2 linked regions of the Homo sapiens genome follow. The protein of the gene in region 2 interacts with the protein of the main gene of each other region in a pairwise test. Each region holds a gene or a part of one and is shown on either strand. Other genes may lie near its edges.

Region 1 (3,821 bases), on a different chromosome or scaffold from region 2:
GGGTCTTGGTGGATGGAGACTACCTTCTCATCCAAAGATGTGGCCATCAAGGAGAAGTCTTTCCCATCGTAAATATCCAAGGGCGTGACTGAGCCATCACTGAACTGGACCCAGCAACTGATGGCTGCTTCCTATGGAGAAAAATATGTAAGTTAATCAAATGGGCCAAAAAGCTCATTGAGCCCCAAGTCTTAGTACAGTAGACACACAACGGCAAAACTATTGCTACAAGAACAAAGACAAACCTTTCAAACAGTGTAGAAATAAGCGATAAGAAGTACCAAGAGTATAAAAGAAAATGAATTCTCACAAAGATGCAAAAAAGCAAAATAAAACAACAACAAAATGACAAAACAGGGCCAGTATTAAACAATCCGTAAGAAGATTTGCTTTTTTTTTTTTTCTCCTGTAGGTGTTGTTATAAAAGGAAGATGGGCCCTTGGGCTGTTCAGAATCAACTTCTGAACAATAATAAATTGCACGACAAAGGAAATTACTGGTTAGTGGAATCATTTACAAGTGTTACACATTCAAATGAAAAATATTTATTACATTATTTTTAAGTTGTAATACTGAGTCTCCACTGATTACTGGCAATACAGATAAAAGCCTCTGATCTAGATGAGGTCCCACTGCAGGGCTGCAGGCTGTGGTTTTGCCAGCCCTGCCTTTTCTGGGTCTGCAGGAGTGGATCTGTCCTGGCCTCAGGCCATAGTCTTGGCTTGGAGGGAGGAGTTAAGCCTGACAGCAGGAGAGGGAGAAGCATCTTGATTGGAGAGTCTTCATCTCTTCCTCCACCCAACCCAACTGGAGGAAACTGGAAGACCAAAAAGCAGCCAGAGCTTGTTTTCACTTTGTTGATTTAGACCAACTTTCTTTGCAAATAGTTTGACCAGGCAGATCATTGGAGATAACCTCCAATTTCATGCCAGCCTTTAATTTTAGTGAAGATGACATTATGCTTGACAGCAGTGGCAGATCCATTGCTTCCTCCCTCCCTCCCTCCCTCTCAGAGAACCTGCTCCGCCCCAAGCCCGAGATGATGAACAGCACTAGGTGGCCCATGACCCTGCCCGCTGGGCCACAGCAACAGCTGATTGAAATGAGACAGCTGCTGCCATTAGAGCCATCAATCTCAGCAATGCTGAGCCAGCCAGCATTACTCTCTCTCTCTCGAACTTGAAACCAGAAAGACAAGACTGACAAAGTTATGCTTGGGAAGATGTGTAGTGGGGGCACATATAAAATTGGGGAATGAAGCCCTCTGATGGACTATGTATAAGCAAATGTTTGGGCATGGCATTTATCCATAGGAAGACAATAATGAATTAGACCAAAATAAAAACACAGGTGAGAGAGAGAGTGGGCATGAAAGTGCTGACCTTCCCTTTCCTCCAAGGTCTTGCAGCTGGGTTCTGTGAGATCCCTATAATCCTCATAACACATCCTTTGTTATTTAAGCTTTTGCTTGAGTGGATTTTTTTTTCTCTTATGACCTACTGGCCCCTGACCATGACAGAAGTAATTTTACACAGTTGTTGTTTAGTCTTTGGAAGTAAGAAGAAAGTCTCCTCAAATGTGGCTGGTGGCCTCTGCTCTTTCCTTCAGCTCAGCCAAGAAATACTTATTCTGTTAGACACTGGCTTGGACTACCTGCTAAGCGGATAACCTTGCCAAGGCACAGTGCAAAAGCTACTGGACATGACACTGACTTACCAGGTTCTCTCAATCGGCCATGAAATCTGAGCAGAGCATTCAAACGCACAACGGAGTTCTTGAAACTACCACTGTCAGAGCCAAGTTGCAGGCAGGGAGTAAGAGCCCTGCAAACCAACCATGGAGCAAATCTCAGGGTAGCGTGTTTAGCTCTGCATGTCAGGAACGGATTAGCCTTCTGGCCTTCTTCTAGCTGCATCTTATCCCTTCCTTAACGCCTAGCTGGTGGTCCGCTGATGTTATCACCCACAAAGACAGAGAAAAGCCTCAGGTTATTTCTTCATTGCTATCTGTAACTTGCCTCTCGGCTGGCATCCTTCCTTGAGAAAAGGAGGTTTGCTTTGGCCAAGAATTCGATTCTGTTATTGGGATCAACCACTTTCAAGTGTTTTCTAACCCAAAACTCTGCAAACAAAGACTGTAGTATAAGGACTAGGAGATTAGCTCATGCCTGAGAGGGGAGCATTATGTGACAGGTGCAGGCTGGGAAAATGGGAAGGCTCTTTGTGCCCCTTAGCAAGTCCAGTGTGGCACTCCTGCCTCCTCTGAACATGGCCACAGCCGCAGCTGGTGCATGAAGGCAGGGAAGGCCTGGTACCTCACCCTGCCGAGGAAGAGTGCGCAGAAAAGGCTCCTGATCCAGAAGGGAAGCAGTCAGAACAATGTCCCATATGGGCCGGAGGGATTCCAGCTGCCCCACATGAGGATGATCCCTTTTCATGGGGCAAAAGAACTAATGACCTGCAACCACCATGTTTTGTTATTAAGCAAGCTTCACCCAAATTCCTATGTTCTAAGAAATAATGTTTATCCACCTCTAATGAGGGAGAACTTACTACATTCAAAGGTCCCCTATAACAGTCCCCTTTGTAAGCCATTGTATCCACATACAAACACATGCATCACACACATACACACAACACACATACACATATACATGCACACAGGCACCTATACAACACAAGCATACACACAACAGAAAATACACAAGACACACATGCATACGGACACACATAAAGCAAAAACATATATGACACAGACCCACAACACACACACATATGCACACATACAAACAACAAATAGACACATGCAATGCATACATACAACACACGATACATTCACAACACACATATATACATGCATACAGGTGCCTATACAACACAAGCACACATGCAACACACAACACAAAACAAGCAACACAAAATACTGACACAAGACACACACATGCATACACAGACACACAAAAACAACATATATGTACACAACACATAGACACACAACACACATATACATATGCACACAACACACAAAACACACTCTATTAGCTCACACTGGTTCCAAATAAAGTAAAAGAAAATTGTGACTGACATCTCCATGAATTCTCTGTTTCTGCCTTGAGCTGAACAATGAATGGTCTGGAAGCGATCTCCCGCCACAGGCTCCCCACTCAGCAGGTCTGTCACCCTCCGCTCCAGCAGGACCTTGGCATCAGGCTGTGCACCTGCTCTGAGCCTGCACGTGCCCTCATGCCCTCATGGAAGCAGGAAGCGTGTGGAGAGCACAGGTGACCACCTGCATGCACTTGCACTATGGTGGATGAGGGGTGGGCCTTTCCTCCAGGGCTCCTGCCCCTTAATGGCTTCTCATTTTTCACATGTTGCAATCCTTATGTATATATGTATTTATTTTTTTCATCTCTGCATGGGGGAGCTGGGAAACATGAGGCAGAGGAGTCACCTGCTTCAGAAGAGCCCTTTGCAGATGGAGAAACAAACGCCCGATATATGATCCCACTCTATTGTGCGACCCGCCTGGCGTGGTGCCTGCCTGGTGTGTGATCCACTTGGTGAGGGACCCTGCTGAAGTGTGTCTCAAGCCCTCCTCCATACCTGTTTTGGCCTCTGCAGAAGTTCCTGAGCCACTGCAGTGGCAAAGATGGCCCTGTTGCTTCCTGGGCTGAGCTGCAAGGAGAGTGACAGCCCTGTCACCAGCTGCACCCCGAGGTCTGTGATGGTCACCTTCTCGTCCAGCACAGTGATGGTCTTTTCAGCGAGGATGGTGTCTGACAGAGGAGACAGGATCTGGAGGGCAGAAGCGACATGACA
Region 2 (3,821 bases):
CACCACAAAAAGCATGAAAAGTGCTTTCCCCAAGGACACGTCTGCCAGCTCCCAGCAGGGAGAACCTCTCCTGTGTTCACAACAGTGGATGGGGTGGGCGGGAAATGATCCCCTCTTCATGTTCATTTCCAGCCGCTGGGGCTGCCCACTTCAGCGATTGTTGCTTGCTTGCATTACCTTTGTCTCAAGGTGGGGCTTTGGCAGGCTACTGTCCCCCCTTCCCCTAGGGGCAGCCTAAATTAACGGTTACATCTCCATGGGTCTCACACCTTCTCTGGGGACCCACTGGTCTCCTAAACTTGCTAATGTCACAGCAGTTGTGAATATGTTAGGGATCTGGTGGTGCGGTGGTGACTCAAGAGCAGAGATTTCCTGGGCAGGGCAGTGGTATCTCCTGTCTCAGTTCAGGCCTGAAAGGAGGGCGGGCATGCCTGTGTGAGCTGGCCACCCACATCCTTGTCCCTGGGACGTTCTCAAACTGCCACTGTTAGTGTTGTCCTGCATCATGAGGGCAGAGGGACTCCCCATCAGTTGGATGGTGAACAGATGGTCAGAGGGGTGAGGGCAGCAGAGAAGTACTCCCACTTACCCTTTCCATGGGGTTTTGTGTTCCTCAGCACTCGATCCCTGCCAAACTCTTGTTGTTTTTCTTTCCTGCACTCTAGTTTCTTTCCATGGGTTCTTCATCATATCCTGGCTGTCTTTTCTCAGTTTTCTGTTTGGATAATTAGTTACTTTGATCTTTCTGAGGAGAACTGGCATCTGAGGATCTGAGGTCCCTAGTAAGTGATCTTTTTTTTTTTTTTTTTTTTTTTGAGATGGAGTCTCGCAGTGTAGCCCAGGCTGGAGTGCAGTGGCACAATCTTGGCTTACTGTAAGCTCCGCCTCCTAGGTTTATGCCATTCTCTTGCCTCAGCCTCCTGAGTAGCTGGGACTTCAGGCGCCCGCCACCATGCCCGGCTAATTTTTTGTATTTTTAGTAGAGACAGTGTTTCACCATGATAGCCAGGATGGTCTCAATCTCCTGACCTCATGATCTGCCCGCCTCAGCCTTCCAAAGTGCTGGGATTACAGGCGTGAGCCACCCCTCCCGGCTGTAAGCGATCTTGAAGAAAATACTCTCCTTTTAAAAAAATTGATACATAATAAACATACATAGTTTGGGGTATAATACGTGATAATTTCATACATTCATATAATTTATAAAGATCAAGTCAGTGAACTTGGGATATCCATCACCTTAGAACCATTCAAATTCTCTATTTTGAAATGTAGAGTAGATGGTTGTAAACTATAGTCACCCTGCTGATCTGTCTAACGCTAGGTCTTATTTCTTCTATCAAACCATGTATTTGTACCCATTAATCAACTTCATTCTCTATCACCCACTCTCCCTGGCCTTTGGTAACCACCAGTCCACTCTCTATTTTCATGAAATCCACTGTTTTAGCTCCCACATATGAGTGAGAACATGCAGGATCTGTCTTTCTGTGTACCTCTTTTGATTTTTTACATTGATGATGTTTATTGCCACAAATATTGCATTCTTATTGCAATACTTGTAAGATTTTGGCATTCCTTGCAATTTTCCATTTTGAACACACATCTTGTATATCATTCTGGTATATTATTAATCTCTTGCTCTTCTTAAGTCCTGCAGTAAATGCACTGAATACCAGGAAGTATGCCCTGACACTTGCCAACAGCACCTTGAAAAGGAGGCTGTGGTAGCACCTGATGCTGGCAGAGAACCCCGTCATGTCTTGCCCAGGCAGTGTTTACTGTGCTGCTGTCCTAGCCCACTGCTTTATTTGAACCGTGTGAGGCATAACCTTTCAGTGGTCACAACACTGGCCAGTGAGTTCTGGCAGGCAGGCAGGCAGGCAGGCAGGCTGGGATCAGCATGGTTGGTCCAGTATGTGAATTTTTAATATAGAAAAAAAAAGTTTATTTATATATTATTATATATACTACTATATATATTATTATATATTATTTGTACTGTGGAAAACTGTGGCATATGTGGCCACATACATTCAATGTAAGTCTCTGATCGTAGGCAAGAAAAAACTTTGATAAATGTGTTTATTGTTTTACTTAATATGGAGAAACTCTTTGTAGACATAGCATGCTTCTAGTTAAAGTATGAGAACATTTTTTTCATCATCATATTAGTGAAATCTGACCATTTTAAATGTTGAAGTTTGTTTACATATCCCTTGCCTTTTTCCAGAAAGAATTTAAGGTAGATAAAGTCAAGTTGAGAAGTAAGCTCTTTCCTCTGAAGTTGACGTTTTGAAATTGTGGCTCAGAGAAGTAGTGGGTAAATGTCAAAGCAGTCTGGCCTCCCTTTTCTTCCTTTAGGTACCCTACTCCTATCTAACGCACACACACAATGGCTCAGGTAACTTTATCTATATCATTCCATATATAATTGTGAAGGGATTATCATAAATGTTAGTTTTATTTTCTTCATTATCCCAGTCCCCCTTAGAGGAAGAACCAGTTACTTAATTGTTTCTATGTGTGTGTTTGTATTTGTTTTTTCTAGTTCAAACAAATTTGGAGTATAATACATTATTTTGTTTATTTTCTTACAGAAAAAGCATGCTTTACGCTGTTATTGTCAAGCCATGCAAGTTTACAAAGGAAAAGGCTGGTCTCTTGCAGAGGATCACATTAATTTCACTATTGGGCGCCAGTCCTATACTCTTAGACAGCTGGATAATGCTGTGTCTGCTTTTAGGCATATTCTAATTAATGAAAGTAAACAATCTGCTGCTCAACAGGGGGCTTTCCTCAGAGAATATCTTTATGTTTACAAGGTGACTGCTTATTTTCATTCAGGAATAGATATTAAAACTGTATTTTAGTGTGAAAGTATTTATTTATTACCATATCTTACGATAGTTTTATTAGAATATATGTAGTTATCAGTCATAAAAAAGCTGTGGCAGGCTAGGCTTTTTGGCTATAGATCTTGGTTACATTGCCCCTTCCACAGTTCTTGAAAAGAGAATTTTAATATTACAATGAACACTTGATTTGTGGCTGTTCTTAGAATCTTAAAAAAAAAAAAGATTCCACAGGTTTTCTGGATTCTTTATTCATCATGCTTTTATAGACTCACAACTGATTTTACAGTTGGTTTTAAGTGGGTTCTCTTTACCATCCTTTGGAGATGGACATTCTATGTTCTTTTCCTTGTGAAAGATGAGGGGGTATGGATCTGTGGAAAGTAGACAGGCTATTATGGTGCAATGGAGAAAAATTAACAGGAAGAAGGACTGTTTCACTGAGGCAAGCAGATAAACATATAAAGCATTGTTTTATGGAAAAAATGGGAAGTTGTAAATTTTTTCCCAAGGCCTATGAATAGTGCATATTATATCTATCGTGCAGAAAATAACTACCTTTAGGGTCTAGACTTTATTAATTTGAAATTATATGGGTTAGAATTTTGGCAGATAGGATGCTATAATGAGTCATAAGAAGTAAAACGCTTACTAAAATAAGTTTTGCATATTTAACATCCAGGTAATTAGCTGAGTAACCTCAGTAAGATTCTTTTGAGGCAGAATAAATATCTGAAGTGCTTCTGAGTTGTAAAATTTTATGACTGATATGAGAAATAAAACTAGTAATTACATATCTTAATATTCTTGCTTAACATATTTTTAATGCCTTGTGTATTAAGAAACGAGGAAACAAATAAAAATACCATTTTCACAAAAACTACTTTTTTTCCCTTTTATATTTCTCTCAGAATGTAAGTCAGCTGTCACCAGATGGTCCTTTGCCACAGCTTCCTTTACCGTATA

What was found.
Region 1: the proteins of TRAPPC8 (region 2) and TMEM132D interact in a two-hybrid assay, tested with the Homo sapiens proteins (one large-scale study listed by BioGRID).

The regions. Positions count from the first base shown.
Region 1 is NC_000012.12:129,074,929-129,078,749, forward strand, and holds part of TMEM132D (transmembrane protein 132D precursor), read right to left. Parts: intron 3,798-3,821; coding exon 3,606-3,797; intron 148-3,605; exon of another isoform or gene 132-147; coding exon 1-131. UniProt on the Homo sapiens protein: Regulate neuronals morphology via inhibition of the WAVE regulatory complex (WCR), a complex that controls F-actin cytoskeletal dynamics.
Region 2 is NC_000018.10:31,873,484-31,877,304, reverse strand, and holds part of TRAPPC8 (trafficking protein particle complex subunit 8), read left to right. Parts: intron 1-2,600; coding exon 2,601-2,825; intron 2,826-3,766; coding exon 3,767-3,821. UniProt on the Homo sapiens protein: Plays a role in endoplasmic reticulum to Golgi apparatus trafficking at a very early stage. Maintains together with TBC1D14 the cycling pool of ATG9 required for initiation of autophagy. Involved in collagen secretion.